Regions from separate parts of the Homo sapiens genome. Here region 2 is linked to region 1. Evidence: fine-mapped expression QTL. A gene starts in region 1. The other region holds a variant in brackets. All regions are shown on one strand. Distances are between the middles of the regions. Region 1 holds the start of NUBP1 (NUBP iron-sulfur cluster assembly factor 1, cytosolic). Region 2 overlaps NUBP1 (NUBP iron-sulfur cluster assembly factor 1, cytosolic).

Evidence for each region.
Region 2: its variant is fine-mapped to the expression of NUBP1 in whole blood (TOPMed, PIP above 0.99).

The regions. Positions count from the first base shown.
Region 1 is chr16:10,737,881-10,753,594 of GRCh38, reverse strand. NUBP1 (NUBP iron-sulfur cluster assembly factor 1, cytosolic) reads right to left here and starts at 9,753. Exons shown (of 11, transcript NM_002484.4): 1 at 9,713-9,753; 2 at 9,530-9,634; 3 at 6,319-6,452; 4 at 917-985. The coding sequence starts at 9,731. RefSeq lists an enhancer at 9,895-9,944.
Region 2 is chr16:10,762,195-10,777,908 of GRCh38, reverse strand. NUBP1 (NUBP iron-sulfur cluster assembly factor 1, cytosolic) reads right to left here. Exons shown (of 11, transcript NM_002484.4): 10 at 9,877-9,960; 11 at 8,558-8,862. The coding sequence ends at 8,804. TVP23A (trans-golgi network vesicle protein 23 homolog A) reads left to right here. Exons shown (of 8, transcript NM_001079512.4): 3 at 2,813-2,957; 4 at 3,781-3,870; 5 at 4,468-4,596; 6 at 6,111-6,239; 7 at 7,578-7,637; 8 at 8,808-11,234. The coding sequence ends at 7,637. Among named protein-coding and RNA genes, the nearest start is that of NUBP1, 26 kb to the right of the region's middle. The variant C/G (reference allele first, on the strand shown) is at 8,716.

The DNA.
Region 1 (15,714 bases):
ATGCATTCCTGGCACTAATTAAAGAAAGAACCAATCTTGAGACTCTCGGGACATCCCAGCACCCCCAGCCCCAGCTTCCATGCACTGCCCTTGGGGGAATCCTCTCTTGGAGAGCTTCTTGCTAGCAAGAAGAGGCCAGCAACTACATAGACTGCTACAGCCCTGCCCCCAGCCCACATCGCTCACCCGCCCTGCAGTCTCAGTTCCCCAGGGGAGACCACAAGGGCAGAAATATTCCCTTGCTTCCAGGGTACAGACCCATAGCAAGCCCTGGTCTAATGTTCCCAGTCAGAGCTAAATTTCCGTGTCTTACTTCTGCATTTCACTGGCTGTTTCCCTTCCCCTCTGAGGAGGCATCGAAACCAATGCTTCTCCAATGGTGTAGACAGACTTCATATACAATCCCGCCCCTCCCCCGCCAAGACTCACAGTTGTTGTTAAAAGTAGACAGATGGACTACTGAGCATGTATGAGCTCCTCATGTCCACATAAACATTTACAGGCCAGGTGCGGTGGCTCACGCCTGTAATCCTAGCACTTTGGGAGGCTGAGGCAGGTGATCACTAGAGGTCAGGAGGTGGAGCCCAGCTTGGCCAACGTAGTGAAACCTGGTCTCTACCAAAAATACAAAAATTAGTTGGGCATGATGGCACACCACTGTAGTCCCAGCTACTCAGGAGGCTGAGCACAAGAATCGCTTGAACCCAGGAGGTGGAGGTTGCAGTGAGCTGAGGTTGCACCACTGCACTCCAGCCCGGGCGACAAGAGTGAGACCTTGTCTCAAAAACAACAAAACAAAACAACAACAAAAAAACATTTATGGGCTCCGCATGCCTCTTTGTTGAGGTTTGACAGTTCAGTGCTACAGAGTTTGCCTTAAGAGAATAATTTCCTGAGTTCTGTAACCGGCTATTACCTGCTCTCCTTCCAATCCCATTATCTTGGGAATCGATGGCCCACATATATCGATGTCTAGAAGAGCAATCTGGGGACAAGAAGAGACCAAAGCGGTTATATAACTGAATGCACACACTCCAGACACACACAACTAGGAGGGGAGCGGGGTTAGAGGAAAAGGACAGGGGAGAAGACAGAAACTGGGTTAAACTTGGAGCCATCAGATTCTCCTGAGGGAGAGTCCTAACGCTGATCTCAAGGTTCATAAACACTGATGCCCCCATTCCCCTACCCCTCAGCCTGGCTGAGCTCCTCAAGGGTGATCTTACAGACCTGGCTGTCAGGTCACTTGGAGGCTCGGGCTCAGACCTTGTTTACTGAGCCCTGGTTGGAGGAGACGGGGAAAGGGACCTAGCGCCTGTTTGGCTTGTGTGACAGAATGGATGGAACAGCCAAGAGACGGCAGTGTTGGAGCCACCCTAAACAGCTCTCTTTTGCTCACCCCTCACCAAGCCTTGGTCTCTGCATCTTAAATTTTTCTCAAACTCATCCTATCTTGTTCAGGAGTCTCAGATACAAGCCAAATCTAGACTATTTAAGCAGAATATGAATGTATTAAAAAATATTGGGGGCTGGGTGCAGTGGCTCACGCCTGTAATCCCAACACTTTGGGAGGCTGAGGCGGCCATGTGCCTAGAAGGTAAGTATCATTATCTCTGGTTTACAGAGGAGGAAACTGAGGTTCAGAGGGGACCAGTTCAATAAGCAGGGAACAGAGCTGGGACATAAACTGAGGTCTTTCGGCCCCAACTGGGGCTCTTTCCAGTACACCACGGGCCTGCTGTGGAGGACCAGAGTGGAGCCTCTAGCTGAACCCTGACCAAGCCCTGTTTTCCTTTGATCCTGAAGGTGAATGATGGTTTAGGCTAAACTTACAGAACAGAAACTTAAAGTAAGATGGAAACCTGGAAAAGCTCTTTAGTTGTGACTCAGGTGCAGCTTCAGGCGACCCCATTCCACCCCAAGCCTTCCCCTCTGATACAGGAGGTCTGAGACGGCCTTCAGGAACCTTCTGAGAACAGGGCTAGTATTCATCTTGAAAGCTGCAATGACTCGGATCCAAAGTGCTGCACCTCCGCGTCACTTTTTAACTTGCCCTGAATTAGTTTCTTGCCACCCTCTTCAATCCTCTCAACAAACCCAGCCTCCTACTTCCTCAGCACCCAGCGCTGTCTCAAACTTGTGCACGGGAAAACGCCATCCACAGACCAGCACTGGCCTCAGGTGCCCTCTATGGAGCCATCCGGGGAGAACAGCAGAGCGACATCATCGGAAAACCTGACTTGCTCTCTCCGGACCTTGATACTTGGGACTGATGTGTCAATGATCCACGGGGAAATGACACTATCACTATGACTGTGATAGAGACTTTCCTCGATACTCTCAGGTTTCTAGTGACTCTGTCTCCATGCCCTTCCTTTAGGGAACAATTTAATCAATTCCCTTTAGAGGAATTTCACTCCCTTGGGGAGTGAATCTTGAGCGAAATGATGTAAGGATATGAGAAGCAGATCCAGCGCACTCTCTCACTCCCGTGGCAGGCCCGAGAGGCTGTTGACAAGCTCCTGCTACCCAGATGGCCAGGACGGCCCTGGGTCCTGTCTGTTCAGACTTCCTGTTGATCTTATTACTACCCCAAAATCTGTCCATTTAATTTTGCTTAGGTTAGGCCAGAAAAGCAAAGCTGAGAGCAATGCGCCTGCGTTCCTCCCAGCAGGACCTCTGGGCCTGTGTTTGCAGCTGATGGGAAGAGGCCGCGTTTGCTGCAGAAGGTGGAGATGCTGCAAGGCTGTCGGGACCCAAAGCGTCTCCTTTACTCAGCACCCCAAACTGCCCCTGATGAGGAGGGTAGGGGAAGAGGGATTTAGTCCTAACTTTTAGTCCTTGCACAAGTTGCTTCTGCTTTCGAAGCCTTGGCTGTCTGGGCTTCTGATCTGTGAGACAACTGCTCCGGGGTCATCAAGGCCCCTCTCAGCTCTGCAGTCCCAGGACCCAGAGGAGGGCCTCGCACACTCAGTCCTGAAACACCTAGTGCTGACCTTGTTATGACAGTTTGCCTTTCAGATCACAAAGATCATAAATGTTTAATTTATGGTGGCTGGGTGTGGTGGCTTACGCCTATAATTTCAGAACTTTGGGAGGTTGAGGCAGGCGGATCACCTGAGGTCAGGAGTTCGAGACTAGCCTGGCAAACATAGTGAAACCCTGTCTCTACTAAAAATACAAAAATTAGCTGGGTGTGGTGGCACACGCCTGTAATCCCAGGTACTCCAGAGGCTGAGGCAGAACTGCTTGAGCCCGGGAGGTGGAGGTTGCAGTGAGCTGAGATCACACCACTGCACTCCAGCCTGGGCAAAAGAATGAGACTCCGTCTCAAAAAAACAAACAAAAAAAGTTTAATTTATGGAAGTTGGTGACTTGTTATTTATTCATTGTTTTTGAGGTAGAGTCTCACTCTGTTGCCCAGGCTGGAGTGCAGTGGCATAATCACGGCTCACTGCAGCCTTGACTTCCCAGGCTCAAGTGATCCTCCTACCTCAGTCTCCTGAGTAGCTGGGACTACAGGTGCTTACCACCACACCTGGCTAACTTTTTTTATGTTTTATGTTTTGTAGAGACAGGGGTCTCACTTTGAAGCCCAGGCTGGGAGTCGGTGACTTTTGCAGTGGAAGACAGTGTATGACTCTTGGCTGTCTCATGGCTCAGGCTTATGCTACAGAGGCTCCTTCTGCCTTCACCACAACTTACACACTCCCTGGGCAGCCTGTGACTCGTCAGGGGTGTTTTCTAATTCTGCTCTCTCTTGATCCAAGGCCCTTTGTGCCAATGAGATGACAGGCGCCTGCCTGCCTCAAGCGCTAACATGGAATGGTCTTGCACAGAGTTAGAGCCAAGCTTCCACCAGATGGCAGGCAGAAAAAGGTCAGGGCATGTCCCACCACCCTGCTGGATTTAGGGCAGGGAGAAATCTGTGCTGCTTGACTTTAATCAAGACATATTCAGCATTTTCCATGTGTTGACACTTTGCAGATAGTGATGTCACTGTCATGAGTAGGTCTGCCTGGGGAAAACACACTTTCCTAAATGCTGACTTCTTTTTTTTTTAAACCACCACTGCATAAAAAAATACAGCTGATCTAGCCATATTTCCACACTGAATGGTGTGCTTTCCTTCTGTATACTGCAAAGTCTAGACAGGCATGCAGCAAAGACTTCAGAACGTAATTACATGAAAGTGAAGGATGTAAACAGTTGTCTACTCACAAGTGGTTACTTGCAAGTGGTGAGATGAAAGCCCATCTCCAGTGAGCTGTTTAGGAATATTCCTGACAGCTTCGAAAAGCAAAGATTCTTCTAAACGATACAGACAATCTGAGAAAGCAGATTTCTTGGCCAGCCCACTAGGCCAGTACAGATTTGACCCTCAAATGGCAAGAGATCGCTGACTCACAGAATGACGAATCAACGTGTGTGTGTGTGTGTGTGTGTGTGTGTGTGTGTGTGTGTGTGTATGTGTCTGTGTATCTATCTATATCCTTTTTTTTTTTTAAATGGAGTCTTGTCTGTCACCCAGGCTGGAGTGCAGTAGGGCAATCTTGGCCCACCGCGACCTCCGCCTCCTGGGTTCAAACGATTCTCATGCCTCGGCCTCCCGAGTAGCTAAGACTACAGGCACGTACCACCATGCCCAGCTAATTTTTGTATTTTTTAGTGGAGACAGGGTTTCACCATGTTGGCCAGGCTGGTCTCAAACTCCTGACCTCAAGTGATCCGCCTGCCTCAGCCTCCCAAAGTGCTGTGATTACAGTGTAAGCCACCATGCCCTGCCCAACAAGTGTATTTTGAATCTGCCCAGTACTATACCTTGGGTAGGCTACAAACTCATCTCTAAGGCAGATGTAATCATCATCCCTTCATATCCAGAGAGTGAAATAAAGTAATAAAAATGGTGGCCATCACAGACCTTTACTGAGCATTGACTATTCGTCGGGCCCCGTGCTAAGTGCTTTACTGTGCCATCTCACTCAGTCCTTGGAGTCCCATTTTATAGATGAGAAAACGGAGGCAGAGTAAGCCTGGTAACTTGCCCAAGGTCACAGCAGTGGTGTAGATGGAGCTGGGACCTGAGTTTGGGCTGTCTGACTCCAGAGTGTGTGCTCTTAGCGACCCACCAACCCCTTTTATTAAAGTTGAGATCCAGAGGGCAGCAGTGGGTAATCTGAGTTTTCATGCTCGTCTGTATGCATGGGTGGAAATGAATAAACTCGTGTAAGGGCCAGCAAAAATTTTCCACAAGGGCCAACAGCAAATATATTATTAGGCTTTGTGGGCAAAATCAAGGATCATATGTAGGTACTTAGGTACTAATTTAAAAATTGCAATTTTAGGCCAGGCACGGTGGCTCATGCCTATAATCTCAGCACTTTGGGAGGCCGAGGCAGGGGGACGCCTTGAGTTCAGAAGTTCAAGACTAGCCTGGGCAACATGGCAAAACCTCATCTCTACAAAAAACCCAAAAATTAGCCGGGCATGGTGGCAAGCACCTGTAGTCCCAGGTACTTGAGAGGCTGAGGTGGGAGGATAGCTTGATGAGCCCAGGAAGTAGAGGTTGCAATGAGTCCTGATCATAGCAATGCACTTCAGCCTGGGTGACAGAGTGAGATCCTGTCTCAAACAAACAAAAAACATTTCAAAAATGTGAACATTCTTAGTTCAAAGGCCATAAGGCAGGAGATGGGCTGGATTTGGCCCACTGGCTATAGTTTGCAGGTCCCTGGCTTAGAGAAAAGCTAAAAGGGGTTAATAAAGAGGAAAAAGAAGCGTGAACGTAATGTAATAAACTATCCACATGCAAGGACAGATGTACATCTGCTAGCCATTTTCTTGGCTAGGGAATCCAGTGAAATGCTTCATTTGACTACTGGGCATTTCTTTGCTCTCTGCCGGATTGAGATTCCAAAGAGGCCAATTCAACTTAGTATAAGGAATCATTTTTTTTTCTTCTTGGACAGTCTCATTCTGCCACCCAGGCTGGAGTACACTGGTACAATCTTGACTCACTGCAACCTCTGCCTCCTGGGCTCAAGCGATTCTCATGGCTCATCCTCGCGAAAAGCTGGGATTACAAGCCTGCGCTACCACGCCCAGCTAATATTTTGTATTTTTAGTAGAGACAAGGTTTTGCCATGTTGGCCAGGCTGATCTCAAACTCCTGGCCTCAAGTGATCTGCCCGCCTTGGCCTCCCAAAGTGCTGGGATTACAGGCATGAACCACTGCGCCTGGCCTAGGAATCAGTTATTTAGTAGCCATCACGACCCTCAGACAAAATGAGCATCTCCCAGTGGTTCCTGAGGTCTCACCTGTGTGTTTTCATCCTCTGCTAGGCCATGGGCAAGGTGGGCGCTGAATGTGCTTTTCCCAACACCGCCTTTCCCAGACAATACCAAGATTTTGTGTTTTACAGTCTTCATTTTCTCTTTGATTTCCTCTATAGCTGCAAAGAAAACCAAAGTTCAGGGGATGAGGTCCCACACCAAACCTCGAATGTCACGCTTCCAGTCAACTAGAAAGAGCTAAGTCCTAGTCCTAGTACTAGTCCTGGGGCTGTTTAAAACGATCCTCTGAAATACCTCTCAGACAATGGTAGAAATAAGTGCTAGGAAGAAAATAAGGCTATTATCACACTTGAAGGGGTCTCATTTATTGGTTTACACGTTTGTCTCCCCCAACTAGAACATAGTCTCCACAAAGGTAGGAACTGTCTGAAGCTTTCAGTGCTGTATTCCCAGCTCCAGAAGAGAACTTTGCAAACAGCAATGGTCACCAACTTGGGGACAAAATCCCCCAGAGACATTTGGTAATGTCTGGAGACACTGTTCTTTCTTTCTTTTTTTTTTGAGACAGAGTGTTGCTCTGTCGCCCAGGATGGAGTGCAGTGGCGTGATCTCGGCTCACTGCAACACTGCCTCCTGGGTTCAAGCGATTCTCCTGCCTTAGCCTCCCAAGTAGCTGGGATTACAGGTGCCTGCCACCATGCCTGGCTAATTTTTGTATTTTTAATAGAGACGGTGTTTCTCTATGTTGGCCAGGCTAGTCTCGAACTTCCAACCTCAAGTGATCCACCCACCTTGGCCTCCCAAAGTGTTGGAATTACAGGTGTGAGCCACCATGCTCAGCCTGGAGACACTTTTCATTGTCACAGGAGAGGTACTGCTGGCATTTAATGGGTACAGCCCAGATTGTGCTAAATGTCCTACAATGCACAGGACAGCCCCCCACAACAAAGAGTGATCCTGCCCCAAATGTCAGCAGTGCTGAGGTTGAGAAACTCTGATAGACAGCAGGCACATACTAAGTATCTGCCAATGAAACTATCTTATTTCAAATCCTTAAAACAATACACGAGGTATAAAGGAAATTAAAAAGTCTCATGACTGGCCAAACTCAAGTGAAAGTTAAGCCTGGAAACCTCCCAACACTGCTGTCCTCCTCCCCATCAACAGACAGCTGTTACTTCCCAACCTTGTGTCAAAGCATTCTACATTAACCAGACACCTGCAAAAGGCCAAAGGCCCCATGCAATCCATTGTGGGATGACTGCCCTCACAAGTTGCTCCTAAGGAACTCCTTTGCTGGCCCCTAAATCTTTGAAGATGAGTATCCTCCCATAAACAAGGACATGCCAACTGTAACTTTAGGACTGTAACCTCAGTCTAACTCCTTCCCTATTACTGATGTCTGTTAAACGCCACACTGACCATGTCCATTACAAGCTTATCCTCCCACATGCCAAACAAAGATGGGATGAGATAGTCCTTCCTCTCCTACCCTGAGACGTCTGCCTAATTAATTCTTCCTTTATTCCCTCTTTTGAATGTTTACTTTATTTTCTGAATAGTGTAGATATACTGGGCACGAATTAAAACCTCACAAGAATGTAACTACCTGCCACGAGGCCTACTGCACTTTTTCCTGCATGCTTTTTCCCCTTTTAATGAAATATATAAACACCAGCCTTCTGGAACCACTCCATCGAGCACAGGCCACAGATGTTTCTGTCACTTGTATTTTCCAGGGCACGCCCTCAAGCTCTGGCCCAATAAACCTCCACTGAGGCTCAGTTCAGTCTCTCCATTGCATTGACAGAGATAACTATTTTTCTCTTCATTTTTTTTTTTCTTTGAGACAGGGTCTCACTCTGTCACCCAGGCTGGAGTGCAGTGGCACGATCTCAGCTCACTGCAACCTCCACCTCCCGGGTTCAAGTGATCCTCCCACCTCAGCCTCGAGGGCGGGCATGCACCACCATGCTGGCTAATTTTTGTATTTTTAGTAGAGACAGGTTTCACCATGTTGGCCAGGCTGGTCTCGAACTCCTGACCTCAAGTGATCCATCCACCCGCCTCGGCCTCCCAAAGTGCTGGGATTACAGGCGTGAGCCACTGCACCCGGCCTGTCTCCATTTTTGATGAGGAACCAGAAGCTCAGAGAGGTTAGGACTATTGCTGAAGGTCACACCGCATGGATCCAAGAATCAAATCCAAGTCTCTCTCTGAACTCCTTCAAGATTCTCCCCCTTGGCCAGGTGCAGTGGCTCATGCCTGTAATCCCAGCACTTTGGGAGGCCCAGGCAGATGCATCACTTGAGGTCAGGAGTTCGAGACCAACCTGGTCAACATGGTGAAACTCTGGTTCTACTAAAAATATAAAAATTAGCCAGCCGTGGTGGCAGGCGCCTGTAGTCCCAGGTACTCGGGAGACTGAGGCACGAGAATCGCTTGAACCTGAGAGGTGAAAGTTGCAGTGAGCCGAGATCACACCACTGCACTCTGGTCTGGGCTACACAGCAAGACTCTGTCTAAAAAAAAAGGGGGAAAAAAAAGAAAAAAAAATATTGTCCTCCTGCCTCCTGCTTTTTAAGGTCCTTCTGAGCAGGCTCCCTGGGTCCTCTCATCCTGGAATCTGTGCTTCACAGCACTTAAAGCTGCGGTGGTTTAGTTGCTAGCTCACGTGTTTGTTTCCCCAGTAAAGCTAAACTCCACTAGAGCAGTGACCACGCCTGATCCCCAGCTGTGTCCCCAGGACAGCACCAAACCTACGAGGCGATCAACACATTTCTGCTGAATGAGTGGGAGAATCACTCCTCAAAAGGAAGAAAATTGTGTCAAGAAAGTAGCTGGCAGAGCCAGGATGTAAGTCCGAAGACTCCCCGACTTCGAAGCTTATCCCGTTTTTCTCTGCGGTCTGTTATTGTCACTCAAACCTCTGGCCCCGACCCTCTTAATTAATGTCCCTTTCGACTCCGCGCCGGTCAGTCTCCACCCTCCATCCGCGCCAGGTCCTTCGCGCTCGCCTTCTAAAGGCCTCGTTCCTGTCAGTCATTCCAAGCTCCGCCCTCACCCTGCCCACTTTCCACGCCCCGCCCCTTCTGGGCCCCACCCCTCTCCGAATACAATACCTTCTAGCCTGCCGCTGTCAGTCATTCTGCAGATCCCGCCCCCTCCCTCCCACGCCCCGCCTTTTCCGGGCCTGCGCCTCTAAGTTCCTGTTGAGGCCTTGCCCTTTTCTCACCCGTGTCCGGAGTGGCCCCCGCTCCAGAAGCGCACAGCCGCTGGTTGGGGCATCCCTGACATGAAGCCCCTCTGCCCGCCTGGGCGCTGTCGGCCCCTGGACAGTCTGCGCAGAGACAAGACCACAGTTAGAGCAGCTCCCGACACTTTCGCCCCGCGACCCACGCCCCCTCCGCGAGCTTACCGTGAGGCACCTCCTCCATTCCGTCGCCTTTGCCGCCTTCGTGGTCACCGGAACCCGCTGTCGTACATTTCCGCCTTGTGGGCACAATCTGATTCTCCGACCGCGCGAAATAAGTCTCGGAAAGGGGGCTGTGCGCACGCGCGAACCTTGGGCCGAAAGACTGGGACTCAACGTCTGTTCCTTTTCAGAGATTTCCTATCATAAATACTTCTGCAGTGCATCTCCTAAGAACAAAGCCATTCTTCATGACATCAGTGCCATTTTCATACCCAAGAGATTTAATATCGATGCAGTACTAGCCAATGCAGTATTAGCCAATAGACAGTTTATATTTCAATTTCAGTTGTTAGACCCCCTCCCCTGCTGGATTCACTCACTGCCTGGAGTTATTTCTCTTCGGTCTCCTTTAATTCAGATCAGTCCTTCTTTTTTTAGGGGGGGTCTCATCACCTTGATAATTTTGACGGGTCCAGACCAGTTGTGTAATAGAATATCCCATATTCTTGATTTGTCTAATCCTCCCCTCCCTCTTGCCTTGTAATTAGATAAAGGTTAATTTTTCTTTTTTCCTGCAGAACACACTTGGATAATGTCAGTTTGTCCCGTTTTTGGTAATGTGAAGCTTGATCGCTTGCTAAAGGTGGTGTCTGCCCCATTTCTCCATTTAATGTTTCCTTCTTCCATTTGTAATTAACAGGTACTCTCTGGGACCATCTTCTTCTCTATCAGCCTTTCACTCAGTGATTTTAGCAGCATTTATATATATATATATAAAACTATAGATTATATATATGATAAATATATATCAGTTTTATACCCTCTCTTTTTTTCTTTTTTTTCGAAGACTCACTATGGATTCCTGGATTTTTTAAAATTGTCTTTTATAATCAATTATTATTCTTTCTGGTCGATTTTTTTTCCCCCAGATGTGGCCAGTGAAGCCCCTTCAAGACAGTTCTTATGTTCTTTGGGCACTAATCCAGCTTCTTTGAGCATTTTCTTGCTTTCTGATACAAGATGTTTCAGTCATCCCTTCTCCCTGCTGCAGTCATTTCTTCAGGGAGCCTTGGTTACTTTTTAGCAGACAACAGTTCAGAAACCAAGATGTGGATGCCACAAATGCTCATTGCTACTGGAGTGTCATTGCTCACAGGTTTGGCACCTGGAATATTAATGAGTGAACAAACTTTACCTAGCCCCAGACACTAAGAATATGGAAACGTTTATTTATTTATTTATTTTTGAGGCGGATTCTCGCTCTGTCACCCAGGCTGGAGTGCAGTGGTGGGATCTCGGCTCACTGCAAGCTCCGCCTTCTGGGTTCACGTCATTCTCCTGCCTCAGCCACCCGAGTAGCTGAGACTACAGGCCACCACGCCCGGCTAATTTTTTGTATTTTTAGTAGAGACAGGGTTTCACCATGTTAGCCAGAATGGTCTCGATCTCCTGACCTCGTGATCTGCCCGCCTTGGCCTCCCAAAGTGTTGGGATTACAGGCATGAGCCACCGCACCCGGCCTCGGAAACATTTATTAAACAGCAGTGTATCAGCTGCCTGTCACTACCACTAATTATAGCCAGCATTTTGTAGAATACTTACCGTTTGGCAGCTGTCATCTTTGTGCTTTCATGTGAATTACCTAATTTATGTCCTTTCATAGTCCTACTGTCTCCATTTTTGGATAAGGAAACTGAGGCTTAAAGTAAACTACTTTCCCGAGGTCGCATGACTGGTAGCAGGGGAACCAGGGTGATAAACTTGGTCTGTCTGGCTGCAGAGCCTGCACTTAGTAACACATGGTCCCAGCCAGCACTGGGCTAGATGCCAATGATTCCAGACTAACCTGGACCCTGCCATCTGGAGCACAGTCTGGTCGGGAGAAGAGGACCAGAGTGATGGGGCATCAGCAAAGGCCTGGAGAGCAGAGAGGAAGTCACCTATCAGGTAGGGACTGTTGTCATTTCCGTTTTACAGGTGATAAGATGGCTGCAAAGATTTACTTGTCCACAGTCTGAGAGGCAGAAAGAGCAGAACTGGGTTTTTAACCAAGTCTGATACAGGGCCTTTGCTATTAATCACTATACTGTATATTAGAGGGCAGGATGCAAGTTATTCTCCTTTTTATTTTTATTTTTGTGGGATGGAATCTCACTCTGTTGCTCATGCTGGAGTGCAGTGGTGTGATCTTGGCTTACTGCAACCTCCACCTCCCGGGTTCAAGCAATTCTCCTGTGTCAGCCTCCTGAGTAGCTGGGACTACAGGTGCCCACCACCACGCCTGGCTAATTTTTTGTATTTTTGGTAGAGACGGGGTTTTACCATGTAGGCCTGGCTGGTCTCGAACTCCTGACCTCAGGTGATCCACCCGCCTCAGCCTACCAAAGTGCTAGGATTACAGGTGTGAGCCACCGCGCCTGGCCAGGGCCGCTTCTTAAGGTGAGTGCTCCCCAAGACTCTGTTCTTGGGCCACTTCCAGTCCCACTTCCCACTTCCTCCTGGGCAAGCAACTGACAGCCCTGATGCTATCCATCTTCTGTCTCCAGCTCCCACACCTCTTGCTCCGTGAGTTCGGATCTGTGGATCCTACCTTGTGCCTATTGGATTTTATTGCATGGACATCCCACAAGCGTAACAAATAAACGTCTACAACTTCTTCTCAAGGCGGTTCCTGCCTCTGGATTTGTTATACCTGGACAGGGCATGACCCCTGGGCTAAGAACTCAAGCCGTAAATCTGAGTATCAGCCTTGTTTAGTTTTCTCCATCTCCATCAGTGATCAAGTGCTGTGTGACAAGTCACCCCAATATGTAGTGGTTTAAACCCACCATGGTTTATTGCTTCCTGTGACTCTTCTGGTTTCACCTGGGCTCCCTTAATGTGGCTTCATTCAGCTGGGAGTTGGCTGGAAGGTCTCAAATGGCTTCACTCTCACACTGGCCTTGATTCCCCCCTCGTGGCCTCCCTCTCTCATTTTTCAGTGGTCTAGCCTGTGTCCCTTTAAATGGCAGCTGGGAATGACAAAGCTGGGAAGTGGCAGTCACTTTCACCATGTTCTCTCGGTCAAAGTGTCACAGACACAGACTCCTCTTGTTGATTAGTGGGGTGGCGTACCTATACAGGGATGGGGGTCAGTGTTGTCCATAGAGACGCCCACAGCACCCCCTGCATCCAATCAGACATCAGGTCAGCAGCTGCACCCCTAGGTGGTAGGCTGGTAGCACACATGACCCCACTTCTCTCCCTGTCTGGATCTGTGCCCTTGGCTGCTGAACTTTGCAGTGCCCTCCCACGTGCGGGGAGGGGGTTCCATCCTACCCCTTGACTCTGTGCTCAGGCATGTGACTTACTTTAGCAAATGTGATTCAAGAAAAAGCTTGTAATGGGGCTTTTGCCTGTTTTAATCCCTCTCCAGCTCCCCTGCCACTTAAAGGTACACAGGCTAGGAGAAGGTCTGGGCTCGCCCATGGGAGGTGAAACACCTGGAACTGAGCTGAGCCACCCCTGTGCTCTCAGTGAAGGCCTCCTAAACCAGCGGCCCAAGACACATGAGAAGAGTCCAGCCAAGAGCTGCAGATCCACCCACCCAGACCCACAGATCCACCCATCCAGACCCACAGATCCACCCACCCAGACCCACAGATCCACCCATCCAGACCCACTGATCCACCCATCCAGACCCACAGATCCACCCATCCAGACCCACCGATCCACACATCCAGACACACAGATCCACCCATCCAGACCCACCGATCCACACATCCAGACCCACAGATCCACCCATCCAGACCCACAACTGGCCATAGATGCGTGAGTCCTGAAGAACCACCTGGCCAATGCACAGGCTGGTGAACTAGCTAAATGCTGGTGGTTTGACACTGTTGAGTTTGGGGTAGCTATAGACAACTGACACTCCATGCCTTCCAGCATCCCTCCTGCCTCAGCTCAGGCCCCCTCCTCCTCCTGGTCCTGCAACAGTGTCTGTTTCAGCCAGGATAGGCTAGTCTGCGCTGCCAAAACAGACATCCCCAAACTGAAGTGGCTCAAGGCAATCAAGTTTATTTTGGCATTTGCTCCATATGTAACTTCATGGACAGAGGTTCCTGCTCCCTGTGGTTCCTCAGGGACACAGACTGAAGCTCCACCGTCTCCTGTGGCCCCTTTTGAACACAGAGGACACAAGCCAGGGGAATTGTACCCTGATTCTGAAATGCTTCCACTAGAAATGACACCTATCTGCCCACTTTTCATTGGCTACAATTAGTCACACACGTCAGGTGCAGTGGCTCACACCTGTAATCCCAGCATTTTAGGAGGCCAAGGCAGGAGGATTGCTTGAGGCCAGGAGTTGGAGAACAGCATAGTGAGACCCTGTCTCTACAAAAAATTTAAAAATTAACTGGGCAAGGTGGTGCATGCCTGTAGTCCCAGCTACTTGGGAGGCCGAGGCAGGACGATTGCTGGAGTTGGAGGCTGCAATGAGCTGTTATCACAGTACTGCCCTCCAGCCTGGGCAGCAGAGTGACACCTTGTCTAAAAAAAAAAAAAAAAAAAAAAAAAAGGCCAGGCGCGATGGCTCACGCCTGTAATCCCAGCACTTTGGGAGGCCGAGGCGGGTGGATCACCAGGTCAGGTGTTCAAGACCAGTCTGGCCAACATAGCGAAACCCTGTCTCTACTAAAAATACACAAAAAATTAGCTGGGTGTGGTGGTGTGCGCCTATAATCCCAGCTACTCAGGAGGCTGAGGCAGGAGAATTGCATGAACCCGGGAGGCAGAGGTTGCAGTGAGCCAAGATTGTGCCACTGCACTCCAGCCTGAGTGACAGAATGAGACTCTGTCTCAGAAAAAAAAAAAAAAGGTTGGGCGTGATGACTCATGCCTGTAACCCAGCACTTTGGGAGGCCGAGGCGGTTGGATCACTAGAGGTCAGGAGTTCAAGACCAGCATGACTAATAGTGTGAAACTCCGTCTCTACTAAAAATACCAAAAATTAGCCAGGTACAGAGGCGCATGCCTGTAATCCCAGCTACTTGGGAGGCTGAGGCAAGAGAATTGCTTGAACCTGGGAGGCAGAGGTTGCAGTGACCCGAAATCACACCACTGCACTCCAGCCTGGGCAACAAGAGCAAAACTCTGTCGCAAAAAAAAAAAAAAGTCACATGGTCATGCCTAAAAAAGTATAGGAAGTACAGTTTTATATGACTGGAAGTGGAGGAAAACCAGATATCCAGGATCACAGTGATGTTTCCCACAGTTCCCTGAATTGTTTCTCAGTCTTAACATTCTTTCCCCATGAAAATCAGACCAAGTCACTCTGCTGCTCATAAACCGTCAGTGGCTCCCTATGGCCCACAGGATAAGGCCCAGTTTTCATATGGTGTTCAGTAGCCTGCATGACTCATTTTGACCCTTCCAGCCTGAGTGTCACTGAGAATATCGAGTCTATTCACTAAACAGCTGGCCTTTGCCTGGCACCCTAGTTCATTGCTGTCACTCACACAGGCCCTTCTGCCAGGAAAGGCCACTGCCTGTCTCTCGCCTATCTGGCTGTGGCCCAGTCCTCTGTGACAGGCCAAGTCTCAGCAGCATCTCCCCATGGAGGCCATTCCTGGCCTGCGGAACTGAACACACTGCGTTCCAGAAGTCTGAGCACGGTTTTCCATTCTAACAACTTCCGAAGTATGAATGCCATAAACTTAACAAAAATTAGCATTTGAAATTTTGTGTAATTTTCCTTTACACTTACTTAGTTCTGTGATTTTGAAAGACTAGATTTTAAATTTAAATTTAAATTTTTTTATTTCAGTTCCTCTGACTGAAGATGGTGAATAATGACTAAAAATGAAAGTTAAATTTACAAAGCTAAGTAAGTGCCAAGGATTTAAATAGACTTCAAAATAATTTTAAAAATAAATTAGTAAAACTATAGAGTCCGAAGATCAGGGTTGCTAGGAGTTCAGCGGGTGGGAGGGGATAAGGGGTAAACGGGAGCCCAGGGAACT
Region 2 (15,714 bases), 24 kb before region 1:
GTCCCGAGTAGCTGGGACTACAGGCGCCCACCACCACGCTCAGCTAATTTTTGTATTTTTAGTAGAGACGGGGTTTCACCATGTTGGCCAGGGATGGTCTCAGTCTCTTGACCTCGTGATCCACCTGCCTCAGCCTCCCAAAGTGCTGGGATTACAGGCGTGAGCCACCACGCCCGGCTTGATCCTGTCTAATTCTTAAAAGCCGGGTGCACTTCCTGGGTTGGTTTTCATTCAGGTCACCAGGAGAGCCAAGAGCCTGAGAGGCTCAGATGAGACCCATCCTGGTGAATAGTTGGTGCTTTGCTACGCAAAAAAGTCACTGTGAAGTCTGCTTCTGAATCTTAACATTCCCCTGGGAGTCGGAAGCCCCACAGTTGTAGAGGCACCTGTGGTTTGTTGACTCGGACTCCGTTTCTTCTTGGGGAGAATGAGCAGGCGCTTTCCCCTGCAGTTCTGTGTGGATCTCTGTGACCACCCCATTCGGCCCCGCATTTTCCAAAGCCCACAACATTTTGTAACCTAATCCAGAGGTTGCAAGCTCACTGCTCGCAGGCCAGTGAGAAACACAGACTGATATTTCAGTAAAAGAATTAGTGGCCATCATTTAAAATCAGATTTCCCATTGCAAGTCTGGATTTCTGACTTCTCATGAAAATCTTGGCTCTGGCAGTACTGGGTCTGGTTTGCACAGCTGCCTGGTGCTGGGAAGAGTCCCTTTCATCCCTCCCTTTTCCTCCCCTGCCCTGAGGTGCGGGTTTCATTCTCATCCATCACTGTGTCAGAGGCGTGTGAACCAGAGCAACTCCATCTTGAATAGGGGCTGGGTAAAACGAGGCTGAGACCTACTGGGCTGCATTCCTGGACGGTTAAGGCATTCTAAGTCACAGGATGAGATAGGAGGTCGCACAGGATACAGGTCATAAAGACCTTGCTGATAAAACAGGTTGCAGTAAAAAAGCCGGCTAAAACCCACCAAAACCAAGATGGCCATGAGAGTGACCTCTGGTCGTCCCCACTGCTACACTCCCACCAGCACCATGACAGTTCACAGATGTCATGGCAACGTCTGGAAGTTGCCCTATATGGTCGAAAAAGGGGAGGCATGAATAATCCACCCCTTCTTTAGCATATCATCAAGAAATAGCCATAAAAATGGGCAACCAGCAGCCCTTAGGACTGCTCTATCTATAGACTAGCCATTCTTTATTCCTTTACTTTCCAAATAAACTTGCTTTCACTTTACTCAATGGACTTGCCCTGAATTCTTTCTTGGGTGAGATCCAAGAACCCTCTCTTGGGGTCTGGATCTGAAACCCTTTCTGGTATAACAACTGGGCTCGTGCCATTGATTTCCTGATCATAGTTGAGTATCGTTCTCTACCTGTGTGCTCTATTTAAACTGGGAAACCACAGAAAGAAACAGAAACCCACAAGTGTCTTCAGTCTGGCCCACATCACCCACTGCCATCACCTGCTCTATACAATTTGGTAACCTTTCTTTTCTTGTTTTTATTTTTTTATTTTTTTATTTTTTGAGTTGGAGTCTGACTTTCTCACCCAGGCTGCAGTGCAGTGGCGTGATCTTGGCTCACTGCAACCTCCGCCTCCCAGGTTCTAGTGATTCTCCTGCCTCAGCCTTCCGAGTAGCTGGGGTTACAGGCAGCCGCCACCATGCCCAGCTAATTTTTGTATTTTGAGTAGAAATGGGGTTTCACCATGTTGGCCAGGCTGGTCTTGAACTCCTGACCTCAGGTGATCCGCCCGCCTCGGCCTCCCAATGTGCTGGCATTACAGGTGTGAGCCACCGTGCCTGGCCTATATCAGACTTACATTAAAAAATAATAATAATAAAAAAAATAAGGCCAGGCGTGGTTGCTTATGCCTGTAATCCCAGCACTTTGGGAAGCCAAAGTGGACAGATCACCTGAGGTCAGGAGTTCGAAACCAGCCTGGCCAACATGTTGAAATCCTGTTTCTACTCAAAGTACAAAAATTAGCTGGGCGTGGTGGCAGGCGCCTATAATCTCAGCTACTTGGGAGGCTGAGGCAGGAGAATTGCTTGAACCCGGGAGGTGGAGGTTGCTGTGAACCGAGATCACGCCACTGCACTCCAGCCTAGGGGACAGAGCAAGACTCCATCTCAAAAAAAAAAAAAAAAAAAAAAGAAAAGCAATTTACACAGGATGAGCATGTTCCCCTTGGCTCCCTCTCTTCTTTCTGGCCAGGTTTGTGTCTAAAGGCACAGTGAACAAGAACCACCTTCCCCTAGATTAAATGCCAGGATTCACGTGCCATTCACCACTGAGCAAGTATGATGAGTTAGACCTGCCATTCACAGGTCACATGTTTCCCTCTGTCCAGGAACACGCATTCCCCGATGACATGAGACACCTGCCCCGTGGGCTGCGTGTGAGCTTGGAGCTCAGTGACTGGTGGTGGAAAAACCCAACCTTTACCTTTAGGGAACTGGCCGTCATCTCTGCTAGGCGGGAAGGCAGTGACTGCTGTCACGTTTCACTTCAAAGATGACCGTGTTTCGAAGAGGGCAAGTGATATTTGGAGTCAAGTGGCGGGAAAGTACTGGATTCTTCGAAGGGGAGGAAAAAAAACAGTGTCAGCATGACTGTCTGGGGACTGCTGACCTAATGATGTGTCCCCAGGGCTACAGCCTGAGTTTCTGCGTCATATGCACCGGGGAGAACATTCCATTGAGCCACGCTAACACCCCCAGCAAAGTCTGAAGTGGTAAAGGGAGTTCAGTGACCATCCGCTTAGCTCTTGGAGTGAGGGCGCCTTCTGGGTCCTTTCCTAGACACCCCTTGGCCACCTTTTTCCACCTGTTTTTCCGAGTGAGTGCCATCGTCACCTACGTGAGCTGCGACTGGTTCAGCAAGAGCTTTGTGGGCTGTTTTGTCATGGTGCTGCTCCTCCTGTCCCTGGACTTCTGGTCTGTGAAGGTGAGGCCCTTTCGTGTGATGTCATCACTTCCGAAACACGAGGCTTGTCCCCTGTGTGCGTGGTACCAAGAGGTACTTTGGTTTAGACTCCTGAGACATGCTTAAGAGTGCTGAGCAGTGTCACTTAAAAGTAAGGGGAATGGAGAAACCCCGTCTCTACTAAAAATACAAAAATTAGCCTGGCGCGGTGGTGTGTGCCTGTAATCCCAGCTACTTGGGAGGCTGAGGCAGAAGAATCACTTGAACCCGGGAGGCGGAGGTTGCAGTGAGCCGAGGTTGTGCCATTGCACTCCAGCCTGGGTGACAAGAGTCAAACTCTGTCTCGGAAAAAAAAAAAAAAAAAAAGAGAGAGAATGAGAGCCAAGTGAGAGGGGTTTCCCTTATAAAAACCATCAGATCTCGTGGCACTTATTCACTACCATGAGAACAGTGTGGGGGAAACTGCCTGTATGATTCAATTATCTCCCACCCGGTCTCCCCCACAACACGTGGGAATTATGGAAGCGACAATTCAAGATGAGGTTTGGGTGGGGAGACAGCCAAACCATATCACTTGTATACGAATTAATACATATATTTAAAACATATATAATATGAACATATAAATTATATATGTTTTGTGGGGGGAGTGTGTAACTTTTTAAAGTAAGCTTAGTTGAAAACTAGAAGTCTTGACATCTGAGAATCCACTACAATTCAAGGCCTTTTTTCTTCCTGCTCCCAGTACAAGTCTGAAATGAATCAAGGAACTTTTGTTTATCAATACAGTGAATAAGCCTCTTTGCCTGTGACCTGCTCAGAGTCCTTTGTCTATTGTTCTCAGAATGTAACCGGAAGACTCCTGGTGGGCCTTCGATGGTGGAACCAGATAGATGAAGATGGGAAGAGCCACTGGATCTTTGAAGCCAGGAAGGTATTCTCCATGACGAGCTGAACTAACCAGAGCGGGGATAATGGGTGTGGAAAGTTTCTGTGGGTTCCTTTGGAGTTTTGTGCATATCTGATTCCTGCCTTACACAAAAGCCACCATTGCCAAGGTGCTCTGGTGAAACATGGGTGTGGCAAAAGTGTCTCCAAAATAGACCGGGCGTGGTGGCTCACGCCTGCAATCCCAGCACTTTGGGAGGCGGAGGTGGGTGGATCACTTGAGGTTAGGAGTTTGAGACTAGCCTGGGCAACATGGTGAAACCCTGTCTCTACTAAAAATACAAAAATTAGCTGGGCGTGGTGGCAGGCACCTGTATTCCCAGCTACTCGGGAGGCTGAGGCAGGAGAATCACTTGAACCCAGGAGGCGGAGGTTCCAGTGAGCCAAGATCACGCCACTGCACTCCAGCCTGGGTGACACAATGAGACTTTGTCTCAAAAACAAAACAAAACAAAACAACACCAACAACAAAAAATCCCACAGCAACAAAAGCATCTGCAAAATAAAATAAATGAAAATGTGAGCACGCTCGTTTGCAACCATTTCCACTTGTTTTGACATTTGAATTACTTTCCTTTAACAGGTCTCTCCGAATAGCATTGCTGCCACAGAAGCTGAAGCACGAATCTTCTGGCTGGGCCTCATAATCTGCCCCATGATATGGATTGTGTTTTTTTTTAGCACCTTATTTTCCTTGAAGCTAAAGTGGCTGGTAAGGCCAGATCTTGACTTCCACATTGCTTTGATGTCTCTGCAAAAAAAGTGTTTGCACCACTAGGCTTTTGTTGTTATTTGTTATTGATTGATTGATCAATTATAACAAGTTTATTGAGATATAATACACATTCCATACAATTTACCCATTTAAAGTATACAATTAGGGGCTTGGCATGGTGGCTTACGCCTATAATCCCAGGCCTTTGGGAGGCCAAGGTGGAAGGATTGCTTGAGCTCAGGAGTTCGAGACCAGCCTGGGCAACATAGCAAAACCCCATCTCTGCAAAAAATGCAAAAATTAGCCAGGCATGATGGTGTGCACGCTTGAGCCCGGGAAGCAAAGGTTGCAGTGAGCCAAGATTGTGCCACTGCACTCCAGCCTGGGTGCTAGAGTGAGACCTTGTCTCCAAAAAATAAAATAAATACTAAGTGTGGAATTCAGTGGCTTCTAGTGCAGTCACAGAGTTGTACAGCCAAAACCACCATCAATGTTAGGAAATTTTCATCACCGGAAGAAGCCTTGCGCCCTTTTGACATTGCTTCCCTGTGCTTCTGTTCCTCCAAGCCCTGGCACCTATTAATTTTTCTGTTTCTGTGGATTTGCCTATTCTGGGCATTTCATATAAATGGACTCACACAGGCTGGCACAGTACCTCACATCTGTAATCCCAGCACTTTGGGAGGCTGTGGCAGGTGAATCACCTGAGGTCAGGAGTTTGAGACCAGCCTGGCCAACATGGCAAAACCCTGTCTGTACTATAGATACCAAAATTAGCTGGGCGTAGTGGCACACGCCTGTAATCTCAGCTACTTGGGAGGCTGAGGCAGGAGAATCGCTTGAACCCAGGAGGCGGAGGTTGCAGTGAGCCAAGATCGTGCCACAGCACTTCAGCCTGGGTGACAGAGTGAGGCTCCGTCTTAAAAAAAATCAATAAATAGAGAAAACAAAATATTTGTAGATAGTAAAACAACAGTGTCATTTAATGAAAGTGCGGGCCCTGGAATTTGGATCCCGGCTCGACCACGCTCCAGCTCTGTGACCTTGGGCAGCTTTCGTCTTCCTGAGCCTCAGTTTCCTCTTTGTAAAATGGGATGATGATGGTGGCAACCTCTCCAGTTGTAATGATTCTGAGGTGTCCGTGGGTATTTGCAAATGCTCAGTAAATGTTGGCTGTTACTATTCTTAGGTGCAGGCTAGAGCATTTCTACGTGGCTTGAGAGGTGCATTTCTGTAAATGCTCTTAGAAAGTGACCTTTGCGTCAGATGGAGACCATCCTGGCTAACATGGTGAAACAGTGTCTCTACTAAAAATACAAAAAAATTAGCCAGGCCTGGTGGCGGACGCCTGTAGTCCCAGCTACTCGGGAGGCTGAGGCAGGAGAATGGTGTGAACCCGGGAGGCGGAACTTGCAGTGAGCTGAGATCGTGCCTCTGCACCCCAGCCTGGGCGACAGAGCGAAACTCTGTCTCAAAAAAAAGTGACCTTTGCTTTCTTTGTCTGAGTGCAGGCTCTGGTGGTTGCTGGGATCTCTCTCCAAGCTGCAAACCTGTATGGCTACATCCTTTGTAAGATGGGAGGCAACAGTGACATTGGCAAGGTCACAGCCAGTTTCCTGTCCCAGACAGTGTTCCAGACGGTGAGTAACTGAGGTCTGACTCTTGGACCACTCCTCTCCAGGTAGTCAAAGTCAAGGTGGCCTGCTGGCAACTGCGGTTTGTAATGTAACATATCCGCCAGGCTGCCAATGTTTTATTGTTTATATATTTTTTGGGAGACAGGATCTCGCTCTGTCACCCAGGCTAGAGTGCAATGGTGTGATCGCGGCCTATTGCAACCTCCATCTCTTGGGCTCAAGCGATCCTCCCACCTCAGCCTCTGGCACAGTTGGGACTACAGGTGTGTACCACCATGCCTGGCCTTTTTTTTTTGTAGAGACGAAGTTTTGCCATGTTGCCCAGGCTGCTCTAGAACTCCTGAGCTCAAGCAGCCCGCCTGCCTTGGCCTCCCAAAGTGCTGGGATTACAGCCATGAGTGAGCCACTGTGCCTGGCAGTTTTGTTTTTTAATTGTAAGATTTACATAAAATGTACCATTGTAACCATTTTAAAATGTATAGTTCTGTGGCATTAAGTATAACCACTTTATTGTGCAACCTTCACCCCACCCAGCTCCAGAACTGCTTTCATCTTGCAAAACTTAAGCTCAGTACCCACAAAACACTAACTCCCCCTCCTCCTCGCCTCCTAGCCCTAGCAACCAGCATTCTGCTTTCTGTATCTATTGGTTTGACAGCCCTAGGGACCTCCTATAAGTGCAATTATAGTTTTTGTCCTTTTGTGACTGCCATTGTTAGTTTTCAGTGATTTTTAAAAGTATAGAATTAAGGAAAGAGTCACAAACGGTTTTTCAATTTTTTTTTTTTTTTTTTTTTTTTTTTTGAGATGGGAGTCTCACTCTGCTCCCAGGCTGGAGTGCAATGGCATGTGTTGGCTCACTGCAACCTCCGGCTCCGGGTTCAAGTGATTCTCCTGCCTCAGCCTCCCAAGTAGCTGGGATTACAGGTGCATAACACCATGCCTGGCTAATTTTTGTATTTATAGTAGACGGGGTCTCTCCATGTTGACCAGGCTGGTCTCGAACTCCTTGCCTCAAGTGATCTACCAGCCTTGGCCTCCCAAAGTGCTAGGATTACAGGCGGGAGCTACCGTGCCCAGCTTGTTTTTGTTTTGTTTTTTTTTTTTAACTTAATAGATATTTCTAAAAGTGAGAGACAGAAGTCTTTGAAATTTGACCAGGTTCATCCTGAAATGGGTAGAACCGTCCTAAATTTGAACAGCACTGCTTTATGCCAAGACATCAAGCAACCAATTCCGCAGGTTTTCTGTACTTTGTGGGTTTTCTCTGGCCTTCCATCAGCAGGATCGCCCCACTCGCGTGTAAGGACAGAAAACCATGGTTGACTTTTCCCCTTGCAGGCCTGCCCAGGTGACTTTCAGAAGCCTGGCCTCGAGGGGCTGGAGATTCACCAGCATTAGGTGAGAAATGGATCATGGCACCCGTGTGGAGGAACTGGGGAATTCTGAAAAATGCAGCTCTTGGGGCACAGGGGCCCGGGGTCTGGGTGGGCTTCCCCTGTTCCCTGGGGTGGCCAGGCATGTGACCAGGCAGGAAGCAGACTGGGCAATGGGCCTGCCCTGGGCTTTGCAGCCTCATTGCTCTTGGCGTGAGGAGCTGGGGGTCGGGGGGCGAGGTCACACCTTCCTCACACTGAACATGTGCAAATCTGATCATATGTATGGTCCTAGGGAAGGGCGGGGAGGGAAGAGACAAGGGAGGGAAAGAACAAGGGGATTTGTTCTTGTTTCCCACCCACCCACTTTTATGCCCCAGAGTGGAGGGAAAACAGGAATTTACTCTTCTCCCACGTGGTCTCAGATCCTGTGTGTCTCAAACAGAGCAAGCACCTCATGGCAAAGAGGATGATCGTAGAGTTTACATCTGTCCCTCTTTTTTATATAATTAAAAAACCTGAAAGTTGGTTTGCATGACACTGGACATTACTGGATATACTGTGCACATATTACTACACAGGGAATTTACACAGACCCCACATTCTGTCTTACTGGGTGATTCAAGGACTCTTCAAGGGCTTTTTGATTTGACCCAGCTGTGTCATATGCAGTGATTTTAGAACGAAGCCCAGCCTGAGCTCTGTTGCTTTTAGATTTTTCCTCAATCTGAAGAAAAGCGTTTGGACTGTGGTGTTTGAAAACAAGCCTGTGTGTTCTGCAGTGAAGCCGCACACTCACCCCTTTGGTTCTTTTCTAGGCTTTCTTATCTTCACAGGCAGAAATGGCTTAAACGGGAGTTTCTACAATCGACTAAGCTTCCGACACAGCAGAATCCCACGATCCCACAACCCATTTGTTTTTTACGTGAAACAGGCCTCGGGGGAGAGATTTGAGGGGGTTTTATTCTTAAAACGGCACATTTGTAGAGAATGCCCTTTATATATGTTCTAAAGAAAAGTGTACAAATACTCAATGATTAAAGTGTCTCTGAGAAAGTGGCTTCGGACCACACCAGCATCTGGTCCTTTTGCTGTGACCCACC[C/G]CATCCCGGAGCTGGTCGGGTCTGGCTGGATGTGCTGCCCAGTGAGTGCCTCGCTCGGTAACTGCTTGGTCCTGAACATTCTCTCGTTTCAGGAACTGATGAGGTTCTCTTCTTTTGACTGATGGAGATTACAAAACTCTTGGATTCCTGGAAAACAAGACGACAGGCATAGAGTGCTAATGGCTTGTCTACCCCTTGACAGCCCTGTCCTGTGCTGGGGAGGGCTGTGTTTTGACAGGGGTGGAATCCTCTGGCTAGTTCCATAAAAAGACCTGTGTCTGTGATGCCCTGAGTCTTTGAAAGTGACCGGAATACCTCACACTACCCATCTTGCTCATAACCAGTGGCTGCGGCCTTCCTCGGACCATCTATAGATGGAGGATTCTGGGAATGCTGTTTCCTTACCCTTGACATCATTCTTCTAGGCAAGTAAAACCCAGCCACAAACTCAGAGACCACAGCTTTAACAAACACTGACACCTCTGCCCTAACTCTGGGGCCTCTGATGGCTGCCACTGGCTGAATGTGGCCTGCACGTGGGTTTGGTCTGGCTCAACAAAGTTTTTATTTTTATTTTTTATTTTTTTGAGACACGGTCTCACGCTGTTGCCCAGGCTGGAGTGCAGTGGCGCGATCTCGCCTTACTGCAGCCTCCGCCTCCCAGGTTCAAGCGATTCTCCTGCCTCAGCCTCCTGAGTAGCTGGGACTACAGGCATGCGCCACCACACCCGGCTAATTTTCATATTTTTAGTAGAGACAGTGTTTCTCCATGTTAGCCAGGCTGGTCTTGAACTCCTGACCAGCCTCAAGTGATCTGCCTGCCTCCTTCACCCAAAGTGCTGGGATTCCAGGTGTGAGCCACTGCACCTGGCCTTTTTTTTTTTTATCAGTTACTTTTAAAAATGAATTACTTTATCCCTTTATTGGGATGTATTTCCTAAGCCATAAATTTCACCCTCACCATGTTTTTTAAACTATGAATTAATTCACAATACTCACACATTGAGAGATTTCTCATGGACTCCTGGCTTCCTCGGCTATGGGGGCCACTCTGTGGTCATCACAGACCCCACCACCCACCTGTCCTTCCACACCCCTGGCTCCTTTATGTTGCTTCCTGCCCCACAGGCATCTGCATTTAGTACTCATGGAAATACTTACTCTGAATTATACTTCTGTAGGCTAACGTGGCTGGGGAATCTGGGGCGTCAATGAAAAAAGACTGGCCTTTGTCACAATTCTTACCTTAAAAAAGAAACAAACGGAAGACAATTCAGTCCAAGAGGAAAACAGAATGGCCACAAGATCTTGGGGCTCTTTCCGTGCTGGTGACAATGGGAAGATCTTGAGCCCGCTTCACTCGTAATGAAGAACAAAGTAGAAAAGACCAGTGGGGTCTCAGGGACCTTCCTTCCAGCAGGGTCCCCAGCCAGCATTTCAGCGTGGCTAAATAATCAGGTGGTGTACAGAAAATGCAGGTTCCAGGGCCCTACAGAGAACTGATTCAGCAGCTTCCACATGGGCCCAGGAGTCTGCATTTTAAGAGATTAGCTTTTGAGTGAAAGGATCATGAATGCACATGGTTAAAAAAAGTACAGAATGCAAAAGGATATGGCATAAAAGGCCAAGTCCGAAAAGGGCTACTAGTGTTCTAGGTGTCTTTCCAGAAAGATTATGCGCATATAAATGTGCACACTTGCATGTGTGCGCACACACATACACACACTCTCATATACCTAAAATACGAATGGGAGCACATGACACACACATTCTGCCTGCTGCTTTGTCTGTGTATAATTTTATCTTCCAGGTCATCTGTGCTGGTGTCTATCAGTCTGCTAGTCTTTCCCCGCCATGTGGCCATTGTTCCAGTCCCCTCCTATGCACACCCAGGTTTCTCTAGGACCATGTTATCCCAGAGCCAGGTGGACAGGACACAAGGGGCTAGGGGTCAATGGGGGTGTTCTCGCCTCCAGTCTGCCCTGCCAGCCCCCAGTCGTGGGTGGACCTGCCATCAGCTTGCTCTGCCCACTCCCCAGGCCTGAGCTGCTGGCGAAACAGGCAAGTGACTGCACTGCCCATGGCCGGTCACCAGCCTCAGGTGAACCCCAGGAGGGGTTCCTACCTAGCACTCATCATTTCCTCAACTTCACTACTGTGTCGCCCTGTGGGACAGGGAAGTCCAAGTCGGGGAAGAAGCCTGTGGGGAGGGGTTGGTGGGAGATGGGGAGCCCATATGGCCCAGTGAGTCAGGAAAATAGGGTCCAGAGGCAGGGAACATAAGGCCAATTCGCACTTGAGCCATAACAGGAAATGTCCTCTCCATAGGACGTATGCCGTAAATGACTTTGTAACTTTACTTCATCCTTTTCGTTTATATAGGGCGTACCTCAAGTAGAGGGTATTTAAACACAAAAACTCTGTAATGGGGCCTTTGAGCCCCTATTCTCAGGCCCGTTCTCCTCCCACACCGTGGAGTTGACTTTCATTTTCAATAAATCCCTTCCTTCCTTCCTTTCTTTGTGCGTTTTGTCCAATTTTTTGTTCCAGACACCAAGAACCTGGACATCCTCCGCCGTTAACGCTGGGCCCATGAGACCATGTGGAACTCGCTAGGGAGGCCCCTGAGTGCACGTTCGCTGGGCCAGACCTGGGAGGTTGGGGATCCCAGAATAGTCATGCTGGGGCTACTTTCTGTCCCTGACTTTCACCCAGGTCTCCCTTCCCCAGAGGGCTCCCCAGCCCCCAACACACATATATGCTCTAGTGTTTTCCCTTCCTAACTGCATTTCCCCCTGGGCTCCCACCTCTCCAAGAACGGGCAGCATTATCAGAACAGCTGGTGTGAGCACAGCCCTGTTCCAAGAGATCCCAGGCATCCTCTCACCCCACCCTGGCAGATCCCTCTCACTAGGCACCACTGTCACCTGCATTTTACACACGGGGCCATCGAGGCTGAGAGCGGAAATGACTAGCCCAAGTCCCACAGCTAGTGGTGGCGGAGCAGGGCTCTGAGGCCAGCCCTTCCTGTGATCCTCAGCACACCGGGACCAGGACCCATAGCACCAGAGCGCTGGCATCTGTAACTCTTTGCCACCATGTCCCCAGAGGAGACTGAAGTGCTGTCCTCATGCCTTCCTGTCTGTTCCTAGGAAGGTGGGTTTTCCCCCACTCTGTCCCCAGTGACCTTGCCAGATGCGTGTCTGTCACTTGGCCCTCATGCTCCACCCTCTTGGGTGGGTGACAGTGTTAACCACCCCTTCCTTTCTGGCACTCCCTGGCCTTGCTATCTGTGGCTTCCCCTCAAGGTGAGCTTCTGCAATGTGCCATTTGACACACAGGACCATGCCCACTAGAAGGCACTTAATGTTCTCAGCTCAGAATGAGCCTCGCAGCTGTCACTGGTGGCTCCTCTGCTTTGAAATTAGCTCTTGTGAACCACCTGGAACTTTGTTTCTTTGTGAAAAGTGGCCCTGAAAGGAAAGACCAGGGCCAATGCCAGGGCTTGGTGTGAGGGAGGTGGGAAGATGGAGGTTGCTGGCTCTTTGGAAGAAAAGCCGTATCAGGATCTAATAGCCCCAAGGTCACTTCCTGATCTGTCAGACAATGGCAAGGGCAGGCCTGTGGCTGGGCCCGTGGACATATTTGGGTGGGTCAGCAAGCATGCCATTTTTAAATTTTTTTTTGAGACAGGTTCTTGCTCTGTCGCCCAGGCTGGAGTGCAGTGGTGTGATCATGGCTCACTGCAACCTCAACCTCCCTGGGCTCAAGTGATCCTGCTAACTCAGCCTCCTGAGTAGCTGGGACCACAGGCACATGCCACCACACTGGGTGAATTTTTTCCTTTTTTTTTTTTTTTTTTTTTTAAGAGATGAGGTATCTTCCTGTGTTACCCAGGCTAGAGCATGGTTGTGTGTGTGTGTGTGTGTGTATTTAATGGAGTTAGTTGCTATCATTTAGTATCAGGAGACTTTGGGTAAGGATATAGATTTCTAGCTCTTCATTAAACCTTGGAAAATGTGGCAATTGTGATGGCCATAAGGACACACCTCTTGGATCTCTGGCAGCAGCTGCCATGCTCCAAAATCCACCACCACGTTTGTGTTGAGGCAATGCCACTCCCAGGCTGCTCCTAGCTAGTGACTGAGACGAGCATGGCACTCGGGCAGGCACGCTTCTGGGAGATGCAGCCCCTCTGATGGGTAAGTGGGCTCAGGAATGCCCTGGTGGCTGTGCCCAGCTTTCCTCGACAGCAGCCAAGACACTCCAGCAGACAGATGCTCCAACAGACTGACATACTCCAGCAGACTGAGATGCTCCAACAGACTGACATACTCCAGCAGACAGATGCTCCAACAGACTGACATACTCCAGCAGACTGAGATGCTCCAACAGACTGACATACTCCAGCAGACTGAGATGCTCCAACAGACTGACATACTCCAGCAGACTGAGATGCTCCAACAGACTGACATACTCCAGCAGACTGAGATGCTCCAATAGACCTACTCCAGCAGACTGAGATGCTCCAATAGACTGACATACTCCAGCAGACTGAGATGCTCCAATAGACTGACATACTCCAGCAGACTGAGATGCTCCAATAGACTGACATACTCCAGCAGACTGAGATGCTCCAATAGACAAATACTCCAGCAGAATGAGATGCTCCAATAGACAAATACTCCAGCAGACTGAGATGCTCCAATAGACTGACATACTCCAGCAGACTGAGATGCTCCAACACACTGGCATACTCCAGCAGACTGAGATTCTCCAATAGACAAATACTCCAGCAGACTGAGATGCTCCAACAGACTGGCATACTCCAGCAGACTGAGATGCTCCAATAGACTGCCACACTCCAGCAGACTGAGATGCTCCAATAGACAAATACTCCAGCAGACTGAGATGCCAAAAAGCAAAGTACACTGAGGTGCTCCAGCAGGCTAAGATGCTCCCATGGGCTGAGATGCTCCAGTGGGCTGAGACGCTCCTTCGGGCTGGGATGCTCCCGTGGGCTGAGATACTCCTGTGGGCTGAGATGCTCCTTTGAGTTGGGATGCTCCCGTGGGCTGAGATACTCCTGTGGGCTGAGATACTCCCTTGGGCTGGGATGCTCCAGTGGGCTGAGATGCTCCTTTGGGCTGGGATGCTCCCATGGGCTGAGGTACTCCTGTGGGCTGAGATGCTCCTTTGAGTTGGGATGCTCCCGTGGCCTGAGATACTCCTGTGGGCTGAGATACTCCCTTGGGCTGGGATGCTCCCATGGGCTGAGATGCTCTTGAGGGCTGGGATGCTCCCTTGGGCTGAGATGCTTCCAGGGGCTGAGATACTCCTATGGGCCGTGATGCTCTTTCGGGCTGATATGTTCCTTCCCCCACTCCTTCATCGTGGGCTAACGCTCTCCCTTGTCATTTTCTCCCACAGATGTTTCCCCTGACAAACGTCCTGCCCACCAATCCCATCTCGGCAGAGCTGAACTGTGGCAGAGGTGCAGGCTGGCAGGAATGGATGTGCCCTGGGCTGCTGCAAGCTCCTGTCCCCAATCACATCCATTCATGCAGCCCAACTGCCTCCAGGGGCCTCAGAGGGCAGCTCTCATCACCACTTCCGGCCACTGCAAAAGCTGCCTGGTGAGTGTTTTATGATGCTGGGGAAGGTTGAGAAAGCAGCTGTACTTTTCTGCATGTTGTTGGGGAAATCACATGCCAGAGAAGTATTGTGGGATGTGGGAATAAGGGAAAAAGGATTTGGGGACACAGCCTCCTGGGCACATGGGGTCTCTGGCGTTCTCCCGGGCTGTTCCCATCTTCAGAGTGGCCCTCGCACCCTACCCCCCTACCACTTCCTCGAGGCAGCCATCCCCCAACACTGTCCTCCTGGCTCCCGCTTTCTGCACGGCCCCTTGGCAATCCTGTCCATGTCCTGTGGCTTCAAAACTCAACTGCACGGACATGAACCACCTTCTCCTGACGGACCCCAGAACCTGCTGACAACCTGAGCCCCCGAGCCCCTTAGCCGCAGCACCCCAGAGGGCCCGGCCTCCCTCTACCACCCCTGCTTCACTGTCTCTGAGGGACGGACCCTCCTCCAGGTGACTTGTACTGGCAGCAGGGACAACCTTGACCCTCAGATGCCGTCACTTTCTCTCTTGTGTGTGTCCCTTCCTTTCTACACCAACGCCAGAACCCAGGGCCTCATCCTGAACCCCTATCCCAGGGCAGCCACTCCTGAGCCTCCTGTTCCCAGGCACATGACACTGACAGTCGTTTCCCACAGGCTCCCATTCTCCCCATGCAGCCCTTCCCCAAGGCTCCCCACGTGGCCTCCGCCCTCCCCGCCTCCAGGCTCTCCACGGGCCCCGCCCTCTCCCCAAGCACGCGGCCCCCACCCTCTCCTGGCCAGGCCATACTTCACCCGCCCGGCCCCTCTCTCCTGTCCCGGCACAGACACCTCACACTGGCCTTGGTTCCCTGACAAATGGAGTGGAAGTTCCGAGGCATGGGTGCAGCCGGCACTCCTGGATCCCGGCCTCCCCTCCAGCCTTCTCTCTCTGTTCTCCCCTCAGACCTAAAGGCGAGTGCTGGACGCCCCGCAGGAGCCCCACTAAAGGGCCCCAGTAACGGAGGCCCGCCCGGCTCCGCGGTCCTGGGGGACAGCAGCCTCCTGGGGGAGCAGCTTCGAGTGTAGGCCCTGCCCAGCGCCCCGCGGCGAGTGGGCGCCCGGCGGGCGTGTGGGTGGAGACGTGAAACCCCGTCCCTCCTTCAGCCTCAGGGCCACTCAGGGAGTGGGCATCTCTTGGGATCCTGGGAGACCCACGTACTTAAGAAGAGCATTTTTTGGGAACTTGGCCCCTGCTCGCAGGCCAGTGATCCGCGTTCCGGTCTGTCCCGGTGCTGGAGACAAAGGGGCCTCATCTGTGCCGTGCTGGCTTCTCCGGGCACAGGAGGCCCGGCCCCTTCCTAAGGGATTTTCACCTCAGGCCGCCTTCCTCTG